2 separate regions of the Homo sapiens genome follow, and region 2 is linked to region 1. Evidence: fine-mapped expression QTL. Tissue or cell type: whole blood. Region 1 holds a variant in brackets; the other region holds the start of a gene. All regions are shown on one strand. Distances are from middle to middle.

Region 1 (8,336 bases):
CAGTCACTTGGGCTCCCCCTGCCCTTCGAGGCGCTGCCTAGAACCCGCACAGGGCCCTCTCCCATCTCCAACCTCTCAGAGGCAAGGCCGAAGATGGCCTCTGGAAGGGCCGGGGGCCTGGGAGGTGGGCAGGGCTGATCCAGGCAGGGCAGGTTTCCAGAGGAGGTGGTGAGTGGGGAGGAAGGGAGAAGTTTGGAGAGGACAGGAGGCCGAGGTTGAGACCAGCGGGGGTGGGTCGAGCCCTGGCTTGGGAACGCAGGGGGCTGATGGACTCAGGAGTGAGAGGAGGGGAGGCCCAGGCTGGCTGGCCACAGCAGCCCCTCGGGTGTGAGGAAGTCCACAGTCACTGAGCTCAGCCAGCAGCCCCTTGTCCACTTACCCTGACTCAGAATGACTGTGTCCCAAGGTTCATTCTCTGCAGACATGTGTCCCCTGGAATGCAGGGGCCCTGACGAGGAAGGCACTGCAACCCTCGGTTCACAGTGGGCTGCCTGGGGACCCTTGGACCCTCGCTGTTTGCCCTGGGCCACCGGCTCAGGTCCCCTAGAGCTCTGAGGAAAACACATGCCAGGGCCAGTGGGAGCCCTTGGGGCGGGCTGGGCAGTCACAGGTGTTAAAGCCCCTGATGATGTGACAGGCCTCCAGGCGGGGGCCCCACTGCCGGCACCTTCTGGCAAGGGTGGCCAGGCCTTGGTGAGGAGGCGAGTCCAGTGTCCAGGCCTGGCAGCCCCTCCTCAGAGAAGGGGCTGTATGTGACTCAAGAGGGCCAAGGGCATCCGAGCAGATGGCCCTGGGCTGGGCTCCCTACCCCAAGGCTGGCCCCCTCAGTCTGAGCCTGCGCTTTCCTCAGGTCCCAGAGGGTGGAAGGAGCCAGGACGCACCCCCACTGCTGCTGCAGGAGCCGCTGCTGAGCTGCGTGCCACATCGCTACGCCCAGGAGGTGAGCCGGCTCTGCCTCCTGCCTGCGGGCACCTACAAGGTTGTGCCCTCCACCTACCTGCCGGACACAGAGGGGGCCTTCACAGTGACCATCGCAACCAGGATTGACAGGTGGGGCTCTGGGACTTGGGGGCGGCCAGCTGGAGGCTGGGGTGCTGGAGTCTTAGTGCTCGCCTGTCCCCCCACGTCTCCTGCCTGCCCCTCACCCTCAAGCCCCTATCTGTCCTGGCAGACCAGGGCTGTCCTGCCTACCTGGGGACCCTTCCTTGCTGGTCTGAGCCTGGAAGGAGAGTCTAGTGGGAGGTGGGCCAGGAGCACACAGCCACTTGTGTGACAAGTGCAGTCTGGGAGCGCTGATCTGGTGTCTCTCCACAGGCCATCCATTCACAGCCAGGAGATGCTGGGCCAGTTCCTCCAAGAGGTGTGTATGCAGCCCCGCCAGCCCGGCTCACCTGCCTGGGGCTGCCTGGTGGCCTAGGGTCTACCTGCAACCTCAGGCAGGTGGTTTCTGCCTGGGACGTGAGGTGCCCTTGACTCTTCCTGTGAGAGCCCCGGGCGGTGCCTTGAAGGGCAGGGGGAGCTGAGGCTGCGTCCCATTCCCTGGCTGCACTCGGGGTGGGGTGTGAGAAGGGGCGAGTGCCACCGCTGCCCGGGCCCCCCATCTGTCTTTGCAGGTCTCCATCATGGCAGTGATGAAAACCTAACAGGGTGGCCCCCTGTGCCAGCTCAGGTGACTGGAGCCCGAGGGCCTGACAGGTTCCCAGCAGCTGGGCCGGCCAGCCTTGCACTGTGGGGGCTGGTCCTGAGTCTTGGCCTGCCTCCCAGCCCTGCCAGGAGGCTGCGGCCTAGGGGTCCACGGGAAGCCTCCGTCAGGAGAGACGCAGCCCTGGGGGCCAGCTGGTGCTGCAAGGAAGGGTGGGAAGCTTGCTGGCTTCTGTTGCGCCACTGAGACGGCAGAGACCCCAGGATCCCAGAGCTTCCCAGGATCCCTCCCAGATCCTCTGCTGACTCCATATGGAGGCCTCACACCCAGAGGGTAGGGCAGCAGATCTTCTTTATAACTATTTATTGTTCGAATCACTTTTAGGATGTAACTTTATAAATAAACATGAGCGCTGATGATTTGCAGATCAGTCTTGCTCCAGGTAGTTCCAGGCTGTGCCTGCTCTTGCCAAGCAGGCTGTGGGGAGGGCTGGGTGCCTGCCGAGATGGTGAGGATGAGGATGGCCTCTGGAGGGGCTGGGGGCCTGGGAGGTGGGCAGAGCCAACCCAGGCAGGGCAGGTTTCAGGGGGAGATGGTGAGTGGGGAGGAGGGGAGAAGTTTGGAGGGGCGGGCCCAGGGCATGCCCCAGGCCAGGGGGCTGAGGTTGAGGCTGGCCGGGGCAGGTCAAGCCCTGGTCTTGGGGGACACAGACTGATAGACTGGGGAGTGAGGGGTGGGGAGAGCCAGCGAAGGCACTGCCAAGGCTGTGGCGAAGAAGGACATCTCGGAAACGGGTGTTAGAACCGGAGTTGCGCAGAGGGAGGAACCCCAGGTTCACATGGACTGGGAGCCTTGGATCTGGACGGCTCCTCTGCCTCCAGCCAGGGTTCACCTGCGCAGTGTCCTAGGATTGTTTATTTCCCCAGGCCTCTCTCCCTCGTCCCTCACACCAAATGCTGTGATGAGAGCTGTAGTGTCACTGAACGGTGCAGAAGACAGTTCCAGACATGGGTGGGGAGGGCTGTCACTAAGCCCTTTTGTTTTAGAGACAGGGTCTTGCTCTGTTGCTCAGGCTGGAGTGCAGTGGCATGATCATAGCTCACTGCAGCCTCGACCTTCTGGGCTCAGGTGATCCTCCCTCTTCAGCCTCCCAGGTGGGTAGGAAAACAGGCGCACACTCCATGCCTGGTTAGTTTTTTCAAGTTTTGAATGCTTAGGGGTCTTAGTATGTGGTTGCCTAGGCTGGCCTCAGTGATCCTCCTGCCTTGGTCTCCCAAAGCACTAAGATTGCAGGCATGACCGCCAACCCCAGCTCTAATCCCTTTTAAATTCCATTCGCTTCCTGAGTCCCTTTGTGCCTGGGGAGACCCCGTGTATTGGTCCTTTTTCACATTGCTGTAAACAACTCTGAGACTGGTAATTTATAAAGAAAAGAGGTTTGATTGCCTCAGTTCCGAAGACTGTACAGGAAGCATGGCTGGGGAGGCCTCAGGAAACTTAGAATCATGGCGGAGGGAAAGCAGGCAGTCTGCAGGTGTCTGGAGAAGGAGGAAGAGAGCGAAGGGGAGGTGCTGTGCACTTTTAAATGACCAGATCTTAGGAGAACTCACTATCACCAAAACAGCAAGGGGGATATCCGCTCCCATGATCCAATCATCTCCCACCAGGCTCCTCCAACACTGGGGATTATAATTCGACATGAGATTTGGGCAGGAACACAAATTCAAACCATAGCACCCAGTGAGCCTGATTTGGGCCTTGCTGCC[G/C]GATCACGACCATCTCTGGAGTCCTGGTGTCTGTTCCCACTGGGACCTGTGCCGCTGTCCCCCTCTCCACGCCCTGGCCACGCCAAGCCACCCTCCTGACTCACCCACAGGAAGCTGCCCTGGCCCTGGAGCCTGCCCCGTGAGCCCCTCTGCTTGCTGGTTCAATGGCCCTCCAGCAGCAGTGGCTGTGGCAGCTGGGTTCTCGGCATCTTCAGACACGGATTCTTGAGCAGCAGGATGGGGCTCCATCTCCCTGCGTGCAGAGCCTGCCACAGATCTCCCTCATCCACTGGCTTCTGTGCTGACTTCGGATGAAGCCAGTGGTGCCGCCTATTGGGGTACAGCAACTCAGGGCGAACAGTGAGGGGCGGCTCACCAAAGAAATACCCCGCAGGGCAGTGCCCAAGCCAGAGGCTTGAGCTGGGTCGGAGCTGCCCTAGATCCCTGGGTTTGTGGGCGGACAGGTCCTGTGCAGGGCGCCTGATGGTGCAGGTTGAGGTGGGACAGTTGGGGTCAAGGTATTTCTCAGGCACAGTGCCTATGAAGGGAAGACAGTTGCAGGGACTGTGTCCATGTCAGGATAGACTGGTGGGGACCCCGTGAAGAGTTCTGGAGCAAACCCTGCCTGCAGGGCCCCACCTGGGCTGGCCAGGCCCTTATGTTGAGCATCCCTTCCCCCAGGCCCTCAGGAGCCACTGTCCCCGAGGCAGGCCCTGAAGGTGGCGGCCACACCCTCCTGCTGGGCAGCTCTGCCCAAAGGCCACAGCCAGGACCTGCTTCCCGCGTCCCAGGCTACTGCCTGAGAGGAGGCCTCGAAAGCGCAGGGTTCCGTGACTTTAGAGGCCATGGTTGGCACCCATCATCGCCCCAGTGTAGATTGGCTCCACTCGACCTGGCTGCTTTGGCCATTTGGTCTACCAGCTGGAACCATGTTCCTGGGTGTGGAAAACGCTCCCTCCGAAGCCTGCGGAGAGCCCTGAGGCCTTGTGCTTCCTTCTGATGGGAGGTTCCAGATGCAGTTGGAGGGGATGTCTGGCAGGGCTCTAACCCCCAGCCAACCTAAACATTTCTGGTGCAGAAGGCCCCGGCCTGGTGTTGTTTGTCCCTGGCTGCCTCCTGCTCTGACACCATCAGCATCCTGTTGCCAAGGTCATGGATCAGTGCGGTGCTCTTCAGGGTGTCCGGCCAGCTGGGGTCTCTGTCCTGTATTCCGGCAGAGGCCCCAGGAGAAACAGCAAATGCCTTTGTCCATTCCATACAAATTTCATATAAATGTGAGCAGCTTCTGATCTTCCGTGGCGTATTCGTCCAGTTGATGGCCAACCCTGGGTACCTGGACCTCCAGGACCTGCTGCACTGGGCTGCCCCTCGGCTGTGTGTGCACTCGCCACGTGGCCCTCCAGGAATCCCATCCCACGGGGCCACACTGAACCAAATGGAGAGAGCAGGGCCACCACCCTCTCTCCGCATGCCACGGCTGCTCTGGGACCCGGGCAGGAGGGGACAGTCTTGGCCTTCCAGTGTCCCTCTTGGCCTTCCCACGGCCATCTCTACCCCAAGGATGCAGCAGAGATATCGGTCGCTCCCCAGGTGTCAATCCCAGTCACAGGCTCAGAGACCGGGACATGGCCCCGGGTGGGTCTGTAGGCCCTGTGGGCTCATGTGAGCTGGTCCTGGGCAGGACTCCATTATTAACTGCCTGTGATGTGTCCCACTGTCATGGAGCCCTGGTGACTCTTGGGGACCAGCATCAGCTTGGGGCCTGTGTGCTCAGTGGCTCCCAGATGCCTGGATATTCTCTTCCTGGTGCACATAGTCCCCGGGGAGGTCCTTGTCATGCACACTTGCTGATGTGGGGAGTGTCCTTCATCTTGCAGGCCTGGCCACCTCTTCAGTCAGCAGATACCTGGGCTGAAAACCGACTCGGGCAGTGTGGGCCCAACTGGGGCTCTATCGGAGTGACCACCCTCAGCCCTCCTGGACCCCTCTGCCGGCTCCACCTGAGCGCTGCCCTCGCTGGCAGCCCTGCCTTGCTCTGCTGCCATTCCGTAAGCCCTGCAGGCAGGCCCCTTGGCGCCCTTCAGCCGTGTTCATGATTGTCTCCTGGCCTCTGCTGTTTAGAGGTCTAATGCCCTCCGCCCCCGGCGAGCCAAACCCAGTGATGGTGGTTCCTGCCACCAGCTTCCTGTGGCACCGCTGCCACTCCCGCCAGGCTCCTGGGGCACCGCCACCACTCCCGCCAGGCTCCTGGGGCACCGCCGGCCACTCCCGCCAGGCTCCTGGGGCACCGCCGCCCACTCCCTCCAGGCTCCTGGGGCACCGCCGCCACTCCCGCCAGGCTCCTGGGGCACCGCCGCCACTCCTGCCAGCCTCCTGCGGCACAGCTGCCACTCCCTATTAACCAGCATGGCACAGGTGAGCGGTGTGACCTTGGTCTTCCCAGGGAACCAGTGCTTGGCAGCTCACACCACACACGCCTACGCCTACCCTCCACCAGCCACAGCAGTTGTGGCATCTCTACCCTGCCCAGCAAAAGTGGAAGTGTTGCCTGTGCCGCTAGGAACCTCCAGGTTTGCTCCACCTCCAGGGGCCTTGCCAGGGTGTCAAACCTGTGTCTCGGGACACTGCTGTTAGGTCTCCAGCTTCCCTATCAGGCGCCTCAGCACCCAGTCCTACCAGTGCTCCCGCCTCCCGTCCCCAGCTGGCTGGGCCTGCAGCCCCCTCCTGTGCCCCGAGCTGGCCGGGCCCGCAGCCCACTCCCTGGTCACTGGATGTTGCTGACACTTCACTCGGTCAGAGCCCTAGCACCCAAGGGGGGCCAGGGCCTGACGGGGGTGGAGCGAGGGGTGGGCCGCGTCTGTGCAGGCTCAGAAGCTTCCTAAGAGGCTGGAGAGTGGAACCTTCAGGCACCACGCACTGCCTCCTCCCTGCCCACGGTCCTGGTTTCTCCAGATGGGGCCTTGGCCTTGGCTAGGTGTTGATCAGGAGCTGGGAGTGCTGCGCCCCGCCCAACTTCTCCAAACTCCAGCCAGGGCACCTCAGTGAGGCCTCAGCCACCTGCGCCTTATTTGCTTCCTCCTTGGAGGCCCTCGTGTCTGTTCATTCATCAAACAGCAGCTGGGGCCCCCAGCAGACCCCCTTCCCCAACTTTCCCACTGGACACTGGAACCAGTTTCACAACTGGACTGGACAGGACGACCACCTTGTGCCAGGCGCCAGCTATCTCCCCTGACCAGTGATGGGTCCTCATTGCCCGTGGGCCGTGAGTGACCCAGTTCCAAATCCCAAATTAGTGACTCTCTTCTCCAATGGGGGTTGGATTCTCCAGAAGCAGAGGCAGACATAGAATTTGGGTGCAAGGTATTTCGGAGGGAAGGTGGAAGAGGTGGGGTTGGTGAGGGAGAAGCCTGGAGTGTCGGTGGCCGGGGTGCCCCCACCTGGCTGAAACGCCTGGTCTTTGTGCCCTGCCTGGCTCAGCCTCCCCAGGCAGACTACCCCATGGCATCCCTGGACAAGGCTGCCCCCAAGAACGCTGCCCACAGCCCAGCCATGGGCCTTCCCTTGGGGCTACCGCCCCGGCTCACACCTGCTGGCCAGCGTATTTACTCCTTGCTGGCTGCACCCTCTCAGCAGTGGCTGTGTAGACCATAACCCTGGGAACACCTGCGGGGAGAAGCGCCCTTGGCCTGGCGGCTTGGGGGAGACACCTGGGGTGTCAGGAGGGAAGGAAGGCAAGCAGGGGTGAGGCACTGTGGGACTTTTCCTGCTTTCTGGGCCAGTGGCCACAGGCCACCCAGTGACATTTCTCTCTCAGCGTCTGCTGGGGTGGACTCTGCAGCGGCTGCAGCCAGCCTGGATCGGCTCCTCGCACAGCTCTGCTTGAGGGTGAAGGCCATCTAGAAACCCTCAGTCCCCTCTCAGCCTCAGAGCTGATAGCGCTGCCTGACCATCAGCAAGCTTGTAATCAGCACCACCTCCAGCATGCCTGCTCCTGGATCTCCGTGAGGCTCCCCTGCCTGTGTCACCCAGGGGCCTCTAGGGGTGCTCTGGAGCTGGGAGCCACTGTCCAGCACTTCCTGCCCTCTCCGGCCTCTCTTGGCTGTCTGCCAAGCAGTCACTCAGTCTCCTATTGACCACTCGTTTTGCCGCAAGGCTGCTGGTTTACGTGAAAATAGAGAAAGCCAAAGAGTTTCCTCACCCCTGTAAGATTTACTGGCTCTTCTGGCATTGCACCTGCCTGAGTTCCTTGGTGGGGCCCCTCTTTGAGTTCCTTTGGGCTGCTGTAACAAAGCACCATAGCCTGGGCAGCTCGTAAACAGTGGAAATGCGTTGCTCTTTGTTCTGGAGGCTGCAAGTCCAAGATTGAGGCACTGGAAGACCTGGTGCCTGGTGAGGACCTGCTTCCTGGTCCAGAGACAGCACCTTCTCTCTGTGTCCTGATGTGGTGGAAGGGCAAAGGAACTCCCTGGGGCCCGTTTTATGTGGGCACTCATCCCATTCGTGACGCCTCTGCCTTCATGACCTCATCACCTACCAGAGGTCCCCACCTTTTCATTCCTCACCTTGGGGATGAGGACTTCAGTATGTGAATTTCGGGGACATAAATGTGTCATCTATAGAAGGGCCCATCTCTTACACAAATGCTGGGTCCCCAGTGGCCTGTGTCCTAGCAAATGAGAGCCACCCTGAAAAATAAAATCCTGTCTCCCCAACGCCAGCCCTGGCAAGGCACCCAGAACTCTCCGGAATGCTTGAAGGCAGGGCCTGGCCTTTCCATGGGGTCCAGGGCTGTGGGGTCCCTGGCGGTACTGTGGGCCTGCAGAGTGGGGCATGTGGGCTGAAGACCGTCTCCCCACCATGGTGGGAAGGGACAAAGGGTGGCCCTGGCAGATCCGGACGGGCAGGACTGGGTGTGTCCCATGAGAGCA
Region 2 (8,021 bases), 25 kb after region 1:
CCAAGGGTAGTTGTCTGGAAAGCATATATTGTTCTGGATACCAGGGCACTTGGACACTTTGCTGTCATAGAAGTGTGTCCACGCAGGCGTCACTGGCTGCTGCTTTAGCTGTAAACATCGTATGACCATGGGCTGTGGCTGGCAGGTATGTGCCTCATTGGTCTCAAGGTGGAGCTGAACGTAAACGGCTTTTCTCTGGCTCTCCCAGGCTCCTGCTTCCCTGACATCGCCTCACAGACTTCCCTTCAAAGCAGGGCTGTCCAATCTTTTGGCTTCCCCGGGCCGCATTGGAATAAGAAGAATTGCCTTGGGCCAAACATGAAATACACTAACACTCACGATAGCTGATGAGCAAAAAAAGGTCTCTGCGTAAATCTCATAATGTTTTAAGAAAGTTTACAAATTTGTGTTGGGCCACATTCAAAGCCCGCAGCCCGAGTGTTGGACAAGCTTGCTGCAGAGGCTCCCCTAGATAGGGCTGCAGGGGTGGCGTCCGGCAGCTCTAGCTGGAGAAGCAGGAGGAGGGGCAGGAAGGAATCCTGTTCGGAGCTCCTCGCGTCACACATACAGCCCAGCGGGGTGAAGTGGGAGGGGCTGGCGCTGCTGCAGGGGGCTAACCTTGGGGGTGAGGGGGCAGCCTCGGAGAGGAAGCTGCCCAGGAGCAGAGGCTGGGGGCGGAGGGCCCCGGGCAGTGCCCCCGTGCCCACAGCAGGACCCTGGCTGCCAGTTCTCCGCAGAGGGCCAGGTGGTCTGAAGCTGCCCAGCAGGGAGAGAACAGGCCTGGCCTGGACTGGAAACCTGCCATCTGGCCTCTCGAACCTGGGGACTCCGGGTGTCCTCGAAGAAGGGCCTGAGCAGCAGCAGAGGACCCCAGGCGACCGTGCCTGAGCCGGGCGCCGACGACGACTGAGCACCTGATATGTCCCCGGCACTCGCAGCCCCGCGGCCGGAGTCGCTGTGGGTGAGCGGTCGTCGAGCTTCACAGAGGCCGGGCTCTGTGCCAGGGCCCCGACAGGGCAGGAAGCAGATAGAGTCCCACAAGCACAAGCCCAGTGCGCAGAAAGGGTTACTTAAAAAATAAGTTCTGTGATAAAATCAAACAGGGTGAAGGGCTGGAAACAGGTCATGAGGGCGCAAACAGGTCGTGAGGGCGCAAACAGGTCGTGAGGGCGCAAACAGGTCGTGAGGGCGCAAACAGGTCGTGAGGGCGCAAACAGGTCGTGAGGGCGCAAACAGATCGTGAGGGCGCAAACAGGTCGTGAGGGCGCAAACAGGTCGTGAGGGTGCAAACAGGTCGTGAGGGCGCAAACAGGTCGTGAGGGTGCAAACAGGTCGTGAGGGTGCAGCTTTGGGGAGAGAGGGGCCCTGGGGGTGAGCGGGGAGCTAGGAGAGAAACAGCGCTCTGGAGGGGCCCGGGCAAGGCCTGCCTGAGTGGGAGGGGGCAGAGCACGAGGGCCCAGGCTCCAGGCTGGGTGGGACTGCCCTGAAGTGCCTGCGGAGACAGCCAAGGGGCAGATGGAGAGAGGTAGGGGGTGGGCTGGGGACAGCGTTTCCTGTACACAGGTGGAACCTGGTGGCAAGGGGCCCTTCCCAGAGACAGTCAGAGTCTCTAAATGTCCAGTTTCTTCCCCAAGTCCACACAGCCCAGAAGAATCCGCTGGGACCATGTGGCCCTGCCCAGTGGGGCTTCCCTTCCAGTGTGTGAGGAGCACAGGTGCCAGGCCACGTCAGGGAGGCCAGGCCTGGTGGGGACGGGGTGCCCCAGGCCACTGCTGGGGAGGAGTGATGCCCAGCAGAGGGGGCACGGTGGAGTTCATGGCTGGCCTGGTGGTGGGGGGGGTGGGGGAGCTCTGCAGGGCCCTGGCTCTGGTGGGCTGGGTAGGCCTGCTTGGGGCACCATCTGATCTGCCAGAGGTGGAAGGAGCACTCCTGGGAGATGCCGTGCCCTGCACCTCCAGTCCCTGCTTGACGGCGGCCGGGCTTGGACTGATCAGGTGCCGTGCCTTCTGCTGACCCCAGAGGCCAGACCCTGTGGCCAGAGTGAGGGATGGATGAAATCCCAAATCTGAGCCTCCTGCCCGAGGATGAGGCCCCTCTCCAATGAACATCATGGCCCATGGAGACTGGGCAGGGAACCCAAGGGCGCACACTGGGGACTGGGCCTGGAGGGACAGCCGGGGAAGCAGGAGGAAGGGCAGGAAGGACAGCAGGAGGAAGCAGGAAGAAAGGGACAGGAACCAGGCCCGGGATGACAGCAGAGAAGGACCAATGCCCAGCCAGGGCTTCCTCACGTGCCTCTGGGTAGAGAGCCCTGGTCTGGCTCAGGAGGCCCAGGCACTGGTCTCAGACCTGCCACCACCTGTGTGACGCTGGGCCAAGCGCTTCCCTTCCCTGGGCGTCCGTTTCCACCGCTGTAAAGTGGGGAGGGGTGAAACTGAAGCTCTCCCCAGCCTATCCCAGCCGTTGAGGAGGGAGAGGCTGTGGTCAGGGGCTGTGGGGCCCACGTTGAGGAGACGAGGCTCCTGCCCTCAGGGTGGACAGGGCCCAGGAAGGGGGTGCTCTGCACCATGGGGGCGCAGCCTGGGCCTACGGGCTCCCCCACCATGAGCTCAGAAGGAAGATGTCCGCTGAGGAGTTGGGGGCCAGGGAGAATATTCTAGACCAGATAGGGGTGGTCTGGGTAGGCTTCTGAGGGGGTGGGCTTGGAGGAGGGGCCGGTGGCCAAGTCGGGGGGAAGCAGGGGAGGAGCCAGCCTGCCTGCGTGTGCCTCTCACCTGTGTGCATTGGCGTGTGCATGTGTGTGTGCATGTGTGCCAGCGTGTGTGTGTGTATTGGAAGGCGCCCACGGAGCGTGTCTGCATGAACCAGGATGAGTGTGCGTGCTGCACCCTGTCTTGGGGCTGGGCATGAGGCGCTGGGGAGGGCGAGCTGACCGCAGACCCTGGGAGGGCTGGGCCCTGGGAAGGTTTCCGAGATGACAGGGCAGAAGTGGGCTGGGGAGGAGGAAGGCTCCGTGGGCGGGGCTGGAGCGTCTCTGGTTTTGCTGTCTGTCTCTCACGCTGTTTCCAGAACAAATGTGTGCCCTCAGCAAGGATGCTGGCTCTTCAGAGGTGTCAGCACAGGCAGCCGGCACCCCACTTCCCTCCCAGAAATCCCCCACGCCCTCTAGCTGGGGCTGGTGCAGGAGCAGTGGGGAACTCCTGTTACCCCTGACCTGCTGCCGTCAGTCAGCCGCCCGCCCCCCCACCTTAAGGAGGGGCAGAGTCAGGGACCAGCCCTGAGGGGTGGCTCACCCCAGCTTCACTTCCCCCAGCCCTTCTCAGACAGCCACTGTGCAGGCTTTGGCAGCGGGGGTCACACACTCCACCCGGGAGGCCAAAGCTGCCTGCAGGTCAGTGCCGCCCACTGCCCTAGGGGCCTCCCAGCGGGGCAGGGGCATGGTGGGGGTCTCAGAGTGGGGTGAGGCTGTGATGGGGTCTCAGAGCAGGGTGAGGCTATGATGGGGTCTCAGAGTGGGGTGAGGCTGTGACGGGGGTTCTCAGAGCGAGGTGAGGCTGTGACAGGGTCTCAGAGCGGGGTGAGGCTGTGATGGGGGTCTCAGAGCAGGGTGAGGCTGTGATGGGGTCTCAGAGTGGGGTGAGGCTGTGATGGGTGTCTCAGAGTGGGGTGAGGCTGTGATGGGTGTCTCAGAGTGGGGTGAGGCTGTGATGGGGGTCTCAGAGTGGGGTGAGGCTCTGATGGGGTCTCAGAGTGGGGTGAGGCTGTGATGGGTTCTCAGAGCAGGGTGAGGCTGTGATGGGTTCTCAGAGCAGGGTGAGGCTGTGATGGGGTCTCAGAGTGGGGTGAGGCTGTGATGGGGTCTCAGAGTGGGGTGAGGCTGTGATGGGGGTCTCAGAGTGGGGTGAGGCTGTGACGGGGTCTCAGAGCGGGGTGAGGCTGTGATGGGGGTCTCAGAGCGGGGTGAGGCTGTGATGGGGGTCTCAGAGCGGGGTGAGGCTGTGATGGGGTCTCAGAGCGGGGTGAGGCTGTGACGGGGTCTCAGAGTGGGGTGAGGCTGTGATGGGGGTCTCAGAGTGGGGTGAGGCTGTGATGGGGGTCTCAGAGCGGGGTGAGGCTGTGATGGGGTCTCAGAGCGGGGTGAGGCTGTGACGGGGTCTCAGAGTGGGGTGAGGCTGTGACGGGGTCTCAGAGTGGGGTGAGGCTCTGATGGGGTCTCAGAGTGGGGTGAGGCTGTGATGGGGTCTCAGAGTGGGGTGAGGCTGTGATGGGGAGTCTCAGTGAGGTGAGGCTGTGTTGGGGTCTCAGGTGGGCTGAGGCTGTTGGGGTCTCAGGGGTGGCTGAGGCTGATGAAGACTTGGAGCCTGTGTCTGGGTAGCAGCTTGTTGGAGTGTGGGATGTGACATTTAAAAACAAGAATGAAGAATACCCCGTGCTGTGGCCCCGAGGTGAGCAGCTACTTTGGTGAACTCGTGTCACTCACAGCCCCATCCTGGGTCCTGGGGTGTGGTGTGCTGTGTGGGGCCCAGGCCCAGTGGGGTCACAGGTACGGGGGACTCTGGTGCCTGGGCCACAGGGATCTGCACCTCACTGCGTGCCCCCACGTCTTCAGCAGTGGTTGGGGCCTGTGGTCTCAATCCCAGGCCAGCCAGGCACTCTGGGGTCTGGGCGGGTCCCGGGTCCAGACAGGGGGAAGGGCTGGGGAGGGGCTCTGGTGTGGCTGGATCGCCCGTCTATGGCCAGGTTTCTCTCCTGGATCACTCAGTGCAGAATCAAAGGGCACTTTTCTGCTTTTGTGTGCAGAAGCCGAGGGTGACCTTGTCATCAGAAGGGGAAGCGGGGCCTCAGAGGCGTGCTGCTGGCTCCAATCCCCAAAGCCTCCTGGGCAGGAAGTGGAAGGGCCCCATCCCCACGGTCCCCGGCAGCGGGAGCTCCCTGAGGCTGATGGTGCTGGTGTCTGTCGAGGAAGACAGGCCTGAGGAGCTGAGGCGGGAGGCCAGCTACGGTCCACGGCCTGGACACAGATTCCTGTGCGGGACTGGGGCAGTAGGTGGGCATCTGTGCTGGCCATGTTAGCTCCCAGGGGCCCCATGCCATCTGGGCTAAAGCCTGGGCCTTGATTTCCTGAACTTTTCTGGGAGGCACTCCACGGGCGAGACAAGGACCCATGAACAGGGCACTTCTTCGAAGCCTACGTGCACCTCGAAACTCTTGCAACATTTGCATTTTTCTCCCTAATAGTTCAGTGTTTGTTTTATTATAAACAGGAAAATTTAAATGTTGTAGTTAGAGTTTTTTTCTTCTTCTTAGAGATGGGGTTTCACTCTGTCTCCTAAGGCTGGAGTGCAGTGGTGGGATCATAGCTCACTTCAGCCTCAACCTCCTGGGCTCAAGCCGTCTTCCTGCCTCAGCCTCCCGAGTAGCACGCATCACCAGCCCAGCTAATTTTCTGTCTTTTTTTTTTTTTTTTTTTTTTTTTTTGTAGAGACGGGGTCTCCCTGTGATGCCCAGGTTGTTCTTAAACTTCTGGCCTCAAGTCATCCTCCTGTCTCAGCCTCCCAAAGTGTTGGGATTACAGGCATGAGCCACCGTGCCTGCCTGCAGTTAAACATTCCCCCACAAAATACTGGGCCACACCGAGGCTAGTATGAAAGTTGCAGCCCTGGGTATGTGTGACCTGAGAGCCCCTTGGCAGCCATGGGGAGCGATGGGGGAAGCTGGGGCAATGGGAAGGGGTCTAGGCACACGAGCCCTCGGGTCCTCACCTCCCACGAGGCAGGGTCCCAGGCTGCCTCTACTCAAGGTGGGGCAGCAAAAGAATCGCCCTCTAGCTGTGCAGACCCCCTCCCCCTCCAGGTCTGCACACCGCCCAAGGCTGGCCCTGGACTTCTGGTGGATTCAAGTACTCAGGTGGGGAGAGTAGGAGGCCAGTCGCACGGAGCCCTCCCCAACGCACAGTGCCTGCCCAGCTCAGGTGCCTCTGAGGTGTAGATTCTGAGCAGGTTCTGGGATCTCCTGGCCCCCAGCGGGGGCTGCCACAGGAGTATAGGCCCAACAGGAAGGGAAGATCCCAGCGATTGGTTCCAGTGGGTTCTGGGGATGTCCTCGGAGCCTGGCCTGGCTCAGGGTCCCTCCAAAAGTCCCTGGAACGAGGGTGAAGTGTTGCTCATGAATCAGAGAGAAAGCAAGCAGGACCCTCAAGAAGGGAGGAGAGAGACCACTGGGCGTGCAGCACTTTGCACTCGGGGGAAGGGCTCCTGAAACTTGGAAGTCAGCAAATATCTGCTGTACTTCACCAGAGGTGGGATCTAAGGAGACAGAATGAAGCCAGGGGGCAGAATGTTTCGTTTCTGTCTGAAACCTGTGCCCTCCATCCCTCATGGACTGGGGACCTGGAGTTCCCGGGGACCACCGTGGGGAAATGCGTCCCAGCACTAATGGTCCCCAGCAGCTGCAGTCACGGGGTTTGGGCGCTCTCCCCTCCTGATTTGGGGGACCTTTTGTGCTCCTCTGGGCAGAGGGAGGAGGCAGAGGGAGGAGGAAGGCCCTTCGCTGTGGGCTGAGTCCTTCCCACCTTCCATACCAGCCCAGCAGGAAGCCACTGCAGGATGCCCCAGAGGACAGCCTGATGGTTGGGGGAGAGGCTTCTCCCGCCCTCACCCCTCCGGGTTCTTCCTGGACCCACTGAGTAACCCAGGTGGTGGGACGTGTGGCTGTGAGTCCTGGACTCTGGGCGCTCACCAGCAGCTCCGTCTCACACCTGCCTGCGTGTGACACCAGCACCCCTTATGATGAGGAAACAAGTTTGCCCAGCTGCAGGGGTGGCCGAGTCAGGATGACTCTAGCCCGTGTCCTGGACACCAGACCCTGCCCAGGTCCAGCCGGGGCTGGTCTCAGCCTTCCTGGGCTATGTCGCGGAGGGTGTTGGGGACAGCGAGAGGCTGGCGTGGACAGTGGAGGGGTGACTTTGTGGGTGGTCCTGATAGTGACGGAGAGGAGGATACTCAGCTCCACCCCTGGGCGGCCCCTGAGCAGCACGACTGGGCCTGAAGGGGCAGGGCTGCCGTCACAGGCTCTGGCCCCTGGGAGCTCAAGGGGTGAATCCCTGATCCCAGGTGTGGGACTGGGATGGGGCCTCAGGCTGATGCAGGCAGGACCTCCAGAGCTCAGGACTGGGTGGGTGGGCTCACAGGGAGGTAGGGGCAGGCCAGAGTCCCAGCTGTCCTGGACTCTGCTGTGGGGAAGGGCTGATGCAGGTGTGGAGTCAAATGTGGGTGCCTCCTGCAGCCGGGTGCCAGGAGGGGTGGAGGGGCCACCCTGGGCTTTGTCCGGGAGCCTGGTCTTCCCGTCCTTGGGCTGACAGGTGCTGCTGCCTCTGAGCCCTCCCTGCTAAGAGCTGTGTGCTGGGTAAGGCTGGTGGCCCTTTGGGCTCCCTGTCCAGGATTTGCGCTCTGGAGGGTAGGGCTTGCTGGGCTGGGGACTGGAGGGGAACGTGGAGCTCCTTCTGCCTCCTTTCCTGCCCCATGACAGCAGGCAGATCCCAGGAGAGAAGAGCTCAGGAGATGGGAAGAGGATCTGTCCAGGGGTTAGACCTCAAGGGTGACTTGGAGTTCTTTACGGCACCCATGCTTTCTTTGAGGAGTTTTGTGTTTGTGGGTGTGGGGTCGGGGCTCACCTCCTCCCACATCCCTGCCCAGAGGTGGGCAGAGTGGGGGCAGTGCCTTGCTCCCCCTGCTCACTCTCTGCTGACCTCCGGCTCCCTGTGCTGCCCCAGGACCATGAATGGCACCTACAACACCTGTGGCTCCAGCGACCTCACCTGGCCCCCAGCGATCAAGCTGGGCTTCTACGCCTACTTGGGCGTCCTGCTGGTGCTAGGCCTGCTGCTCAACAGCCTGGCGCTCTGGGTGTTCTGCTGCCGCATGCAGCAGTGGACGGAGACCCGCATCTACATGACCAACCTGGCGGTGGCCGACCTCTGCCTGCTGTGCACCTTGCCCTTCGTGCTGCACTCCCTGCGAGAC

What was found. PIP is the estimated chance that this variant, and not a neighbour inherited with it, causes the effect.
Region 2: GPR35 starts here. The variant in region 1 is fine-mapped to the expression of GPR35 in whole blood (TOPMed, PIP 0.95).

What each region holds. Positions count from the first base shown.
Region 1 is chr2:240,597,038-240,605,373 of GRCh38, forward strand. CAPN10 (calpain 10) reads left to right here. Exons shown (of 12, transcript NM_023083.4): 10 at 851-1,050; 11 at 1,315-1,360; 12 at 1,614-2,067. The coding sequence ends at 1,643. Among named protein-coding and RNA genes, the nearest start is that of CAPN10, 14 kb to the left of the region's middle. The variant G/C (reference allele first, on the strand shown) is at 3,409.
Region 2 is chr2:240,622,178-240,630,198 of GRCh38, forward strand. It overlaps GPR35 (G protein-coupled receptor 35), which reads left to right and starts at 3,303. Exons shown (of 2, transcript NM_005301.5): 1 at 3,303-3,391; 2 at 7,772-8,021. The coding sequence starts at 7,776. RefSeq lists enhancers at 2,500-2,649, 3,257-3,763 and a silencer at 7,935-8,021.